Regions from separate parts of the Homo sapiens genome. Here regions 2, 3 and 4 are each reported to be linked to region 1. The links are microRNA targets in miRTarBase. Many come from high-throughput screens and were not tested one by one. Region 1 holds a microRNA gene; each other region holds the end of a gene's coding sequence. Distances are between the middles of the regions.
What was found. The annotated mature microRNA hsa-miR-766-3p reads ACUCCAGCCCCACAGCCUCAGC and lies in region 1 at 3,163-3,184, opposite strand. An mRNA with a match to its seed (bases 2 to 7 or 8) in the 3' UTR can be bound and repressed. Matches are read on the target gene's strand: a 7mer-m8 pairs with bases 2 to 8, a 7mer-A1 pairs with bases 2 to 7 and ends in A, and an 8mer does both.

Region 2: miRTarBase lists VGLL3 as a target of hsa-miR-766-3p. The part of its 3' UTR that is shown has no 7-base or 8-base seed match.
Region 3: miRTarBase lists MED28 as a target of hsa-miR-766-3p. The part of its 3' UTR that is shown has no 7-base or 8-base seed match.
Region 4: the mRNA of ZNF157 is a reported target of hsa-miR-766-3p. Seed matches in the 3' UTR shown: 7mer-m8 at 949-955.

Annotation. Positions count from the first base shown.
Region 1 is chrX:119,643,601-119,648,224 of GRCh38, forward strand. It overlaps MIR766 (microRNA 766), which reads right to left and starts at 3,248; the gene lies at 3,138-3,248. All of the region lies in intron 5 of SEPTIN6 (septin 6), which reads right to left. RefSeq lists an enhancer at 4,302-4,481.
Region 2 is chr3:86,944,279-86,947,278 of GRCh38, forward strand. It overlaps VGLL3 (vestigial like family member 3), which reads right to left. Exons shown (of 4, transcript NM_016206.4): 4 at 1-2,789. The coding sequence ends at 2,746. Among named protein-coding and RNA genes, the nearest start is that of VGLL3, 45 kb to the right of the region's middle.
Region 3 is chr4:17,623,429-17,626,428 of GRCh38, forward strand. MED28 (mediator complex subunit 28) reads left to right here. Exons shown (of 4, transcript NM_025205.5): 4 at 173-3,000. The coding sequence ends at 370. Among named protein-coding and RNA genes, the nearest start is that of MED28, 10 kb to the left of the region's middle.
Region 4 is chrX:47,413,109-47,416,108 of GRCh38, forward strand. ZNF157 (zinc finger protein 157) reads left to right here. Exons shown (of 4, transcript NM_003446.4): 4 at 1-1,390. The coding sequence ends at 486. Among named protein-coding and RNA genes, the nearest start is that of SNORA11C, 26 kb to the left of the region's middle.

The DNA.
Region 1 (4,624 bases):
AGTCTGCTTTGATAAGTATATGCAAGGTAGGCATTTCCCAGCGCTCTCCTTTGGTTTGATTTTCACAACATCCTTCTATGGCAATGATTAAAAGATCCATTCGTGAGCTGAGGGAACTGGGATACATGGAGGTTAAACGAGTTGCCTAGGTCCCTAACCCCCATGCCCAGATCCTCTGAAGCAGCAGCGAGGCCACCGAGCTTTGGCTGCCAACCTCTCCCAGCCACCTAGGGTGGTCCGCACTCTGCCTCCTGGCTACATGGCATCTGCTAGAAGGAAGCAAACCATGACAAGCAGGAAATCATGGGGACCAGGCTCTGGCCCTCTGTTCCACTGCTTTTGAGAGACAGATGGCTTTGACAACCAGAATAGAGTCGAGCAGAGCAGAGAGCAGATACCCACCCTCCCCCCGCACCACCACGGACCATACTTCTAGGTCCTACCAATGGGATCCAAATCTGAGGCCAGGCTTTCTGCTATTTTTCCCAGGTCTCTGCAGGAAACTGACAGACAGTGGTGACATTTTCTATGTGTGGACCCAGGGAAGAGACTCTGATAGATGCAGGGCAGTGTTGCTGCTGAAACACAAACAGGCCTCTCAGGAGAGTCTGTGTGACTCTCTCACTCAGACTTCCAATGAGGCGCCCTCGGATATCAGATTTCCCAGTGTCAGAAAACTCCAACAAGAGATAGTCGCAAGCCTTCCTTGGGAGTCCATTCCTAGATTCACCATCTGTCTTAGTGCATTTTGTCTTGCTACAGTAAACTACCTGAGACTGAGTAATTTATCAACAATAGAAATTTATTCAAAAAAAAAAAATTTATTCCTCATAGTTCTGGAGGCTGGGAGGTCCAAGATCAAGGCACCAGCATTCTGGTCTGGTGAGGACCTTCTTGCCGCATCCTCACACAGCAGAAGGACAAGCTAGCCCAACACTGCATGATGTCTCTTTAAAAAGGGTCTTCGGCCAGGTGTGGTGGCTCACGCCTGTAATCCCAGCACTTTGGGAGGCCAAGGCAGGTGGATCACGAGGTCAGGAGTTCAAGACCAGCCTGGCCAAGATGGTGAAACCTCATCTCTACTAAAAATACAAAAATTAGCCGGGCGTGGTGGCGGGCGCCTGTAATCCCAGCTACTCGGGAGGCTGAGGCAGAGAATTGCTTGAACCTGGGAGGCGGAGGTTGTGGTTAGCCGAGCCAAGATCGCACCACTGCACTGCAGCCTGGCCGACAGAGCGAGACTCCATCTCAAAAAAAAAGGGCCTTCATCCCATTAACAAGGGAGAAGCCCTCATGGCCCAATCACATTTTTTTTTTTTTTTTAAGATGAGAGTTTCGCTCTTGTTGCCCAGGCTGGAGTGCAATGGCACGATCTCGGCTCACTGCAACCTCCGCCTCCCGGGTTCAAGCGATTATCTTGCCTCAGCCTCCTGAGTAGCTGGGATTACAGGTGCCTGCCACCACGCCCAGCTAATGTTTGTATTTTTAGTAGAGACAGGATGTCGCCATGTTGGCCAGGCTGGTCTTGAACTCCTGACCTTGGGTGATCCACCCGCCTTGGTCTCTCAAAGTGCTGGGATTACAGGTGTGAGCCACCGCGCCTGGCCAGGCCCAATCAATTCCTAAAGGCCCTACCTTTTTTTTTTTTTTTTTTTTTGAGACGGAGTCTCACTCTGTCGCCAGGCTGGAGTGCAGTGACGTGATCTCAGCTCACTGCAACCTCCGCGTCCCGGGTTCAAGTGATCCTCCTGCCTCAGCCTCCCGAGTAGCTGAGACTACAGGTGTGTGGCACCATGCCCAGCTATTTTTTTTTTGAGATGGAGTTTTGCTCTTGGTGCCCAGGCTGGAGTGCAATGGCGTGATCTCAGCTCACCACAACCTCCGTCTCCTGGGTTCAAGCGATCCTCCTGCCTCAGCCTCCTGAGTAGCTGGGATTATAGGCATGTGCCACCATGCCCGGCTAATTTTGCATTTTTAGTAGAGACGGGGTTTCTCCATGTTGGTTAGGCTGGTCCCGAACTCCCGACCTCAGGTGATCCACCCGCCTCGGCCTCCCAAGTAGCTGGGATTACAGGTATGAGCCACTGCGCCTGGTAATTTTTTGTATTTTTAGTAGAGACGGGGTTTCACCATGTTGGCCAGGATGGTCTCGATCTCTTGACCTTGTGATTCGCCCACCTTGGCCTCCCAAAGTGCTGGGATTACACGTGTGAGCCACTGCACCCAGCCCCGACCTCTTAATACTATCATACTGGCCACACCTGAATTTTGGAGGGGACACAATCAAACCATAGCACCACCTTTACTGACTTGTGTCTAACTTAAATTCTTCTTGTACATTGTAAAGTACTTAATAATCCAATTGGCGTGAGTTACTTTATTCTTATTTCACCACATCCATTATACTTGGGAGGCTAGGTGACTGCTTAGCCCAGTGAAATACACACTGTCAGAACTCTTTATTCCTCATCTAATGATAATATTCTGATTGGGCTTGGTTTCCTCCCAGGGTGGACAGTGTTTCCCAGTTATGTTAGTCCCCATTTCAGGCCCCTGCTGGTGACTGAACAAGACCATTGGCTGATTTGCTCTCAAGTCAACCACTGGTGATTCCTGTAAAAGTACATGGCAACAATGGAAATACCATTGCTGTCTCAGAGGAAGGGATGGACTTGTGCCTGTGGGTCTTCCTATGACCCTACTGTTCAGCCATGTGTTCTCACTGGGCCCAAATGTCAATTGCCTTTGTGGGAACCAAACCCCAGACCTCACAAATGGACAATTAATGGAGCTCAGTCAATTAAGTAACTGGGCCTTTTTGCTGGTCCTGGCCATGCTTTCAGCCATTCAAAGAACATCATTAAATTTAAAATAACATAGCAATTCTTAGTATTAAAGTCTACAACCTTGAGAGATATCAGAGCATGGGTTGAAAATAGCATGCAACAAGACCTCGCTCTCCCTTCTCTTCCCCCTCAATCTACAATAAGGTTTTCTGGAGCCACCCATAATTCAAGGTGGTGGCAGGGACCTCATTACTCTCATTTCCTGCCACAAAAATCCCCCATGGTGAGAGACAGGACATTGTACAGTCTTCTCCACTCAGGCAACAGATTTCTTCCGCTTCTTCCAATCCAGCTCCTATGACAATTGGCTGGGGTGGCTGAGGCTGTGGGGCTGGAGTCAAATCCAAAATGAAAGACCAGCACCAATTCCTCCTACCACCCAAGCCCAGGTCCTGAGGATGCAGCTTCATACACCACGGCTTGTGTGAAGACTCTGGGGACTTTTGACATAGTTGTTCGGTGGCAGGCAGGCTAAGCAATCCTCTGTGTATATTTGATAGCACCCTCTTTCCCATCACAGCGCATGTAACACAAAACACTCACATGCAAGCTCCTCTCACAGGCATGCCAATTCAGGCACACTAGCTGTGAGGCCACTCCTCTCTTTCCCACTCAAAAAAAACCCATAGTGGATTAGCCGGGCATGGTGGTGCATGCCTGTGGTCCCAGCTACTCGGGAGGCTGAGGCAGGAGGATTAGTTGAACCCAGGAGGTGGAGGCTACAGTGAGCTGAAATTGATTGCATCACTGTACTCCAGCCTGGGCGACAGAGTGAGAGCCTGTCTCAAAAAAAAAACAAAGCACAGTAGGATGCAAGGGAGTAAGTGGTGAGTGATTTATGATAGGGATAATCCTGAATCCACTGGAATTCCCTGCTCCTCTCCTCTCCTCCCCTCCCCTCCCTTCCTCCATTCCTTCCTTCCTTCCTTCCACTGGAATTCCCTCCCTCCCTCCTCCCTTCCTTCCTTCCTTTTTATTTCTTTCTCTCTTTCTCTCTTTATTTACTTTCTTTTTCTTTCCTTTCCTTTCTCTCTCTCTTTTTTTTTTTTTGTGAGACAGGGTGTTGCTCTGTCACCCAGCCTGCAGTAGTGCAGTGGCTCGATCAGGGTTCACCGCAGCCTCAACTTCCCAGGCTCAAGTAATCTTCCCACTTTAGGCCACCCACCGACCAAGTAGCTGAGACTACAGGTGTGCGCCACAGCACCAGTTAATTTTTTCTTTTTTGAGATGGAGTTTTGCTCTGGTTGCCCAGGCTGGAGTGCAAAGGCGAGATCTCAGCTCACTGCAACCTCTGCCTCCTGGGTTCAAGCGATTCTCCTGCCTCAGCCTCCTGAGTAGCTGGGATTACAGGCATGCGCCACCATGCCTGGCTAATTTTGTCTTTTTACTAGAGACGGGGTTTCTCCATGTTGGTCAGGCTGGTCTCGAACTCTTGATCTGAGGTGATCCACCTGCCTTGGCCCCCGAAAGTGTTGGAATTACAGGCGTTAGCCACCGCGCCCGGCCACTAGTTAATTTTTTTTAAATTTCAGTAGAGATGAGGTCTCACTATGTTGTTCAGCCTCGAATTTTGTTTCTCAAAGTGAAACACAATTATGAGTAATAAAGGACCCAGAATCCCTTCACAGCCATAACAGCATGCTTGACAACTGCTGCTGCCTAGCTTGGGGGTTTCCAGCCTTGAGGTTGAGCCTACCCTAGGCTTAGCAGGAGGCCAGAGCTGAGCTGAGAACAGAGCCCAGGATGATTATCACTCCTAATCCATGAGGTACCAAGAT
Region 2 (3,000 bases), not on the chromosome of region 1:
CCCAAGCTGGAGTACAGTGGTGCAATCACAGCTCACTGCAAGCTGCAAACTCAAACTCCCAGGCTCAAACGTTCCTCCGGACTCAGCCTCCAGAGTAGCTGGGACAACAGGTGTGCCCCACAATGCCCAGGTAATTTTTCAGAAATTTTTTGTAGGGATAGGGTCTCCCTATGTTGCCTAGGCTGATCTTGAACTCCTGGGCTCAAGCAATCCTCCCGAGCCTCTGCCTCCTATAATACTAGGATTACAGGCATGAGCTGCTGTGCCCAGCCTGGGTCCTGTTTTCAAAGAGAGAGCTCACTTACAAATCTTTCCTGTGTACAGCAGAAACCAGGTTCCCAACATTTCTCAGTTCCTCAGAGCCAATAAACTTTTTGTCTGACAGTTACCGGGAGAACACAGAGCAAAGTCTAAATTCAGGGTGAAGACATCTAATTAATGCCCTTCAATTAAATTTGGTGGAAAATAAGAAATGGAGCTAGGAATAACTACTTTCCTTTTCCTCTTCATTGGGAAAATCCAACTGAATGATCTGAATGAGTTTAACACTACTTTCAAATAAATTACAAAGGAAGTTAATGTATTCCGAAGGTGGATGTGGATGAGGCAAATAACCCTGTCAGTCATCACACAGGGACTGTTGAATACTTGCCTTTGAAAACTCAGAAGGACACAAGGCAAATCCAGATTTATAAATTCACTAAATTTTGTGCTCCATGTATTTGGGCAAATTATAAATGAAACAATCATATCAAATCAAATTATGGACCAAAGTATAGAAAATTTAACCTGGCTACTCCCAGGAAATATAAGTTCATATTATTAGTGAGTGGAAGGTATCTTAAATTTGGACCCCACAATGGTAAAAATGTGCATATTGTGTAAAAGAGAGTCTAGGTAAGAAACAGCAAAGTGCGGAGTGATGAGAGTACAAAAGAGTATATAGATCTGAAGCTCAAAAGACGGATAGGATATAAATGAATACATAAATTACAGCCAAGGAAAATATTTGAAAATTATCTATGAGAACTCTGCCTAGCTGAACATGTCATGTTCATGTCTAAAAAGTTCGCATATATGATACGAACAATTAAAGATAGAAAGTGGCATTTCACTGAACATACTATTTTATGTGGGTGGAGAGAAAAATGGGAGAAATTTGAAAAAACCTCTTTATAAAGCTAAAAAACTTCTCTAATACACTAACTTTTTTACATGACATCTCTGGAAGCAGTTAATGGAAGAAATGAACTTTGCCTTTGAAGTCCAGCAGTATCAATAACTGTTACTTTCATAATCTTAATCTTCTCCTAGCAGTGTCTTAATGATAATTTAAACTTTATTTAGATCCTGAGAGCTATATCAAGTTAAATCCTCAAATTTTTAATTTTTAGCCCAATTTAAATTGTATATAACCTCTGGTTTTATTTTTAAATTGTGGCATAAATTTAAATCCTAATATACACTTTATTTTGCCCTAAATTTCTTTCTAAAAAGGAATTAAATCAAGTAAAGCCAGATTTAAACAAACAAAAAAAGAGACTTGTTAAGTTCTGTGTTGAAACTATTATATATAGAACTGTTTGTTTGTTTGTTTGTTTGTTTGTTTAGCTTACAGGGATAGGTGGCATTATAAGAAAGAGCTCGGGCTTTGTAATTTCTCTAGTACCTTCCCAGATATTGTTCCTTCAAATGCCCTTCAGGAAAAACAAATCCCACTTAAAATATGACTTTTTAAATTGCCATGAATGAATAATTAAAAACAAGTAAAATAAGTCACTGGCACTCATAGGTGGCATGGTTAAATGCATTTTTTTCCTTGTAGTTGTATATAACCTCTGGTTCCATTTATCAAATTTGGATGGGCTAGAAAGAGAATTAGTCTCCTCTAGGCAAACTCTTCATTTGATTGAAAGTTTATGCCAACTTTCTTATTAGTCAACCTCCAAGTTATTCTTTGGGAGAAATCAAAGCAATAAAATATCATTTCTTTAGCACAGTCATTAAAAAAAAACTTTTCAAGCTATACATATAATTCAAAACTAATTGAGCTAGCATGGAATTAAATCTTTACTGAGATTCAATGTAAAAACAATACTGCATTGGTTTGACTACGGTATAGCTACTTTTGTAAGAAGGAAAAAAACAAAACATTTGAGGTAACCTAGAAAGCACAGACAGAGCATATAATAGACATCTTAGAGATAAGCATTTTAAACATTTTTGCCAGTGCTTCTCTGAGAGCAAGTTCTTTAAACAGAACTCAACAATTTTTACAATTTTAAAAAAAATACATCCCTCAAAAATAGCCCATCAATGCTAAACCAAACTTTTTGTATTTCTACAAAAATAGATGCACATAGAGCTACAAACTTGTATTCCTGAAAGAATGAACATTTTAATGTGTGGTTCATCCTTTCCTGACAAGGTGGTTGGCTAAAAAAAAAAATCAAAATGAAACAAAAACTTAGCTATATATTGATAAAAGCAAGATAACAAAAGGAGAGAGTTGCACAGTTGGCAAAGGCTCAGATGAGGAAATAAACAAATAAAAATGCTTTTCTTCAATGTCTGGGACCCACTTTGCTTTCTCAAGAAAGGCCGAAAACCAGTCAACTGCGTGACACTTTGTCTTCTCCTTCTATGCCTTTCGTGTCCTATTGCTGAATGGAAAAACCCGACAGTATCTTTTCCCAGTGGGCCCTTGGATTTATGCTGCAACTTAACTCACTAAGATTGTGTGTTTCAGTACCACGGTGATTCCTTACTCTTGTCTTGATGCTGTAGACCTGGAACAAATGACAATGGGGAAAAAATAAAGAACATTAATACATATGGTACCAAAAATAAGCATAATCTGCAATACATTGGATATAGAAACCAAAATGATAATCCAGGCAACTGTGAGTTCTGACCTGAAGACATCATGATCTCTAAGCAAATTCTGTGCTGGAGCTCACAATTTTCAAAAAATCAACTAACACAGTATGTGACAAAAAC
Region 3 (3,000 bases), not on the chromosome of region 1:
TATGTTAGAATCTGTCATCTGGGTTAATCAAATAGTGGAGCCAAGCAGAGTAATGGGCTTAATATGGTTTAATGGATTCTCTTTGTTTTGAATTGTTAGCCTCTTAACTAACCAGAACCGTATGTGTTTTTCCTGCATTTGCTCTGACTTAGTCCATGACTTTCATCTGCAGGATGTGTCAGAACTAAGGAATGAATTACAGCGGAAAGATGCACTAGTCCAGAAGCACTTGACAAAGCTGAGGCATTGGCAGCAGGTGCTGGAGGACATCAACGTGCAGCACAAAAAGCCCGCCGACATCCCTCAGGGCTCCTTGGCCTACCTGGAGCAGGCATCTGCCAACATCCCTGCACCTCTGAAGCCAACGTGAGCAAAGGGCAGAGGCAGTTGGCCTATGAGTGGGCTGATGCGTGAGGTTGGCCACACATTCCTTCCTGTGGACTTGACATTTTGGAAGAACTCTTTGCCAGATAATGAGTTCATTTTAGTTTTATGCTCCCATTGAAAAATTTTCCACTATTTTTATAAGCTGTTAATTTCTTGAGTACTTTATAACATGTCTGTAGCTTGGATAAACCAAGTAAGTATTTTTTTTTTGTCTTTAGCAAAGTTTAGACTGTGAATATGATGACACAGATTCTTTTTTATGGTGGCTTTGCTTGTTTTAAATTTTTGCATGACTTTTCATCTTTTTATGTGTGTTTCCTGTAGTTTGATCCGAAGGAAAAGAGTATAGTAGCCTGAGAATCAGGAGATGGGAGTTTTAGTCGTAGGCCTTATGATAATTACCCCGCGGTGGTGTGTAGAAAAGTATGTAAATTTGCTCTGTTTTAAGACTTTGAACTACCTCAAGAAGAGGAATCTAATACAATATTTGTAATGTTTCCAGAGCTCTCAGAATGAGGATTTTTTTGTAAATAGGTCAGAAGACGATGGAACTGTCCTGGGTTAGTATAGTAATCTTACAGTAGGATCCTTAGGTTGATGCTGACTTCTGTTTGGGGTATGTTTATATTTTATGTGGTGTTTACTTTTTTTTTTTGACATAGAAGGATATAGTGGGAGCAGTGATACGCTAACATTCATTACATTCTGCAGTAATGAATCTGTTTAATGGGTCAGTCACTGTTTTCAGTAGCATGACAGTGGGGTCATAGGTGAGCTGTGAGGGGCTAAATCTTGCTCTGATTGTCTCTTTCTGTTTTGAGTTTTGTTTGCGTGTATCATTTTTGTTCTACATTTTGGGAGGGGAAACATTTTCCGTTAAGGAAGGTTGTTGCCAGTGGATTTGACTCCAAGGGACTAGAGTGTCGTGGTGGGGGTGGGGAGGGGCTGCAGGGTGATCATTGGCTACTGAGCCTCCACAGAGAGCATGTGGTGCCCTGCCTTTGGGAGGGTATTTTGCTCTCGTTAGTTTTGTGGGCAGCCTCAGATTCCCTGTTGAGTTGCTGTTAAGAAATGGAGATTTCTGGCTCTCATTGGGTAAGGTTTTCTGAGTTTTATATCTTATTAGATCACATCCCTTTACCCAGAACAAATGCTTCACTGTCTTCTGATTGGCAGTACTCCTGTGGCTTTGTGCCTTGACTCATTTTGTTGTCTTCAGCCTTGAAGGCCCCTTCCCACATGGACTGACATCCACTCATGTGCCTGATCCCTGAAGCCTCCCAGCACCCATTCAGTTGCATCCCCAGGGCACAGGACTTTGATCTCTTCTGTTGCCCTCGCTAGGTTCTCCCTGGTGGGTTAGTGCTTTGTATCTGTCTCTCTGCCCCTCACTAATTCTACACCCATGAGAATTAGACATTATTCTCCTTAAATATATAAGGACCATATAATCTGTATCTTTTTGGTGTGTGTATATGGTATCTGGCACATGGATCTCTGATTACCAGCCTGACATCAACAAATCCCCTCAGTTACAACGTATAGGTTAAACAAAGCTTTTAAAAGCTCATGTGGTATGACCTCAAGGTTGCTAACCTGGTCACTCATGGTAATTAGAAACTCTGATTGGCAGCTTTGTATTTCTTGACTAAAAACCTAAATAAACTGATTAGGTTTTAGGCGTTCTTTCAAAGAGGTTCTTGAGAAGATTGAGAACTATCCTATTTGGTGCTTAGTGAAAAGATTTTGAATTACTGTACGTACCAGTTGTTGCCATTTCTTTATTAAATTCAGAAGTTTTTTTGCCAAATAACAATTTTTCAATCTTCTCTGTTTGTAGACATCTTACTGGGTGATGAATAATCCTCTAAGAAACCCTCTGAGCTGCTAACTTTTTCAGGGAGAAAATCACAAGCCATCTTCTCAAGTTCCCCTAGAAACCTGTGGAATGCCCTCTGCCAAGCACTGCTCTGGTACTGGGGAGTGGAGTATTATGTCTTGGAAGAGACTCCTGCTGTGATTGTCCAGGGGTACGTTCTGGTCTGGCTTGGTGCTTGACCTTAGGTCTGCCCACAGGCTTCAGGCTTTCAACTTTGAAACAAACATCTGTGCCACACACATTTTGTAAATGATCCCATTCAGTCTTCTAGAAGCCTTATAACAGAATCAATATTGTTTTTCCCATTTTCACAGATGGATAATAAATCTGTAAAATAGGGATAAGACTAGGACCTATTCCCCAGGATTACTTCTGCAGATTAAAGGAGATGTTGAGGCCAGGTGCAGTGGCTCACGCCTGTAATCCCAGCACTTTGGGGGGCTGAGGCAGGAGAATCGCTTGAACCTGGGAGGCAGAGGTTGTGATGAGCCAAGATCGTGCCATTGCACTCCATCCTGGGCTACAAGAGTGAAACTCCGTCTCAAAAAAGAAAAAGGAGATGTTGAATGGGAAGTCAGCAAGGGTGCTAGAATGTAGCAAGTATTCTTCAGGTGTTAGTGATTTCTGTTGTTCGGGAAGAGGAGGGTTATGGAGGAAGAGTATGGGATTTAGGTGGGTTAAGTGATTTGCCCAAAGTCAAGAGGTTAGTCTTTAACCTTTGGCAGAAGCAGGAT
Region 4 (3,000 bases), 72 Mb from region 1:
AATAATCATCAAAGAACTCACACAGGTGAAAAGCCCTATCAGTGTAATGAATGTGGGAAATCTTTCAGGGTGCACTCATCTCTTGGGATCCATCAGAGAATTCACACAGGAGAGAAACCTTACGAATGTAATGAGTGTGGTAATGCTTTCTATGTGAAAGCACGCCTAATTGAACATCAGAGGATGCATTCAGGAGAGAAACCCTACGAATGTAGTGAATGTGGGAAAATCTTCAGTATGAAGAAATCCCTTTGTCAACACCGGAGAACTCACACAGGAGAGAAACCTTATGAATGTAGTGAATGTGGAAATGCCTTCTATGTGAAAGTACGCCTCATTGAACATCAGCGAATTCACACAGGAGAGAGACCCTTTGAGTGTCAAGAATGTGGGAAAGCTTTCTGCCGGAAAGCACACCTCACAGAACATCAGAGAACTCACATAGGCTGGTCCTGGCGTTGTACAATGAAGAAAGCCTCTCACTGAAGACTTCCCTCACCATTGGATCAAGCTCCTTGGGGGCATATGATCACCAGGGCACACAGTGTGCCTGTGAAAATTTGGCACCTACATTTGTATCAAAGTATGTCCTGATCCCCTTAGGGGATAGCTCATTGTTTTTATTCAGATTTCCCTAATTAGTGGTGTGTGAACATCTTATCTGTTGATTGGCTATTTGGGTTTTTTCTTCTGTGCATTGACTGTTCATGTCCTCTGCTCATTGTTTTCAAATGGGCTGTTCATCTCTTGCTTTTTGGTTTAAATGTTGTTTTTTAACATATGAGAATATAAAAATCCTTTTTTTTTCAGTCATATGTGTTGCAAATATCTTCTCCCAGACTGTCGTTGGTTTTTTAAATTTTGCCATCTGTTTTCTTCTGCTGAAGTTTTATATTTTATTTATTTATTTTTTATTTTTTTGAGATGGAGTCTCACTCTGTCACCCAGGCTGGAGTGCAATGGCATGACCTCAGCTCATTTCAACCTTCGCCTCCCGGGTTCAAGCGATTCTCCTGCCTCAGTCTCCCAAGTAGCTGGGATTACAGGTGTGCACCACCATGCCTGGCTAATTTTTGTATTTTTAGTAAAGACGGGGTTTCACCATGTTGGCCAGGCTGGTCTCTAACTCCTGACCTCAGGTGATCCACCTGCCTCGGCCTCCAAAAGTGTTGGGATTACAGGTGTGAGCCACCGTGCCCGGCTAAAGTTTTATATTTTAATATTATCAGTTTCAAGGTGATAATATTCACCTATACTTTCCTCTAAAGGTTTTCCTTTCAACATTTAGAATTTTAATCTCCTGTGAGATTTTTTTGTTATAGCATGAAGTGTGCAATACATACTACTATATTGTCTTTATATAATTTTACATAAATGGGCTCACACTGTATTTAAAGTTCTGCAGCTTGCTTTTTTCATGTAATGTTACCTTTCCAAGATCTGTCCTTGTTGATAAGTATAGGTCTGGCTAGTCATTTATCTCTCCATTCCCCTAGTAAAAGACATTTGTATCTTTTTCGAGTTTAGTGTCTAAATCTAGAAGTGGAACTGATGGGTCATAGGATTTAGGCAATGTGCTGGTTATTAAGCTATTGTGTCCGAGCTCCAAACCCACCCTTCTTGACTGTGCTTTGTGACTTTACAAACCACATTTTGGCTTTGTCAACTGCTCCCTGTTGGGCCTTGCCAATAAGAGATACTAGATATAAACTTTGGGGCTGGAGAGGGAAGAAGGGACTTGCTCCTTTTTTTTCTATTCCTATTAGCTTCCTGGTCATTGGAGTGTCCGCTCAGCATTGCTTCTTCACTCAGACACCAGCAGTTCCTTGTCACAGCAGCAGTTTAATCTAGTTTGCAGCTTTCCAGCACTCACAGATGGTAGCCCATCCCCTCTGAGACACAAGCATCAGCTGGCTGGTGTCACCTCCTTAGAGATGTGAATTCTAGTCACATGGGACCCCTCCTCCCCCTTCTAAGTTTTAGTAATTTCAATTTATGGTTGGGTGCAGTGGATCATGCCTGTAATCCCAACACTTTGGGAGGCCAAGGTGGGTGGATTGCTGGAGCCCAGGAGTCAAGACCAGCCTGGGAAATATGGTGAAACTCTACCTCTACAAAAAAAATTCAAAAATCAGCTAGGCATGGGACCACACCTGTGGTCCCAGGTACTTGGGAGTCTGAGACTGGAGGTTGAAGCTGCAGTAAGCCATGATTGTGCCACTGCACTCCAGCCTGGGCAACAGAGCAAGACCCTGTCTCCCAAAAAATTGTCAACTTCTTCCCTTTGTTATTCCAGCCCAGCTGTTTTCTGCAGTTGCTACCTCCCTGATAACTTGAATGTTCTCTGTCTCTTCAGTTATTTGGTTTACAACCTCATAACTAGTTAAAATTATTTATAAGTTCTCTCTGTTAAAATAACTAGTGTGGTTTTTGTCTCCTAGTTGGGCTCTGATTGATACAGAAGGTTTTTTAACTTTATTAAGTATTGACATTTCCCTTCCAAATTGTATTAATTTATACTCCCATGAGCAGTTTGAGAAAGTTTTCATTTTGCCATTCAGCAGCACTTATTATCAGTCCTTTAAATTATTGCCAATCTGTAAGGTCTGAAATGGCTTTGAGCCTTGGCTTCCATGAATGTGGTTTGTCTTTCTTTCTTTTGTTCTTTTCTTTTCTTTCTCTCTCTCTCTCTTTTCTTTTCTTTTTTATTTTTATTTTTTGAGATGGAGTTTCACTCTTGTTGCCCAGGCTGGAGTGCAATGGCGTGATCTCGGCTCACTGCAACCTCCGCCTCCCGGGATGGAGCAATTCTCATGCCTCAGCCTCCCGAGTAGCTGGGATTACAGACACGCATGACCACACCCAGCTAATTTTTGTACTTTTAGTAGAGACGGGGTTTCACCATGTTGGCCAGGCTGGTCTCAAACTCCTGACCTCAGGTGATCTGCCCACCTCAGCCTCCCAAAGTGCTGGGATTACAGGCGTGAGCTACTGCGCCTG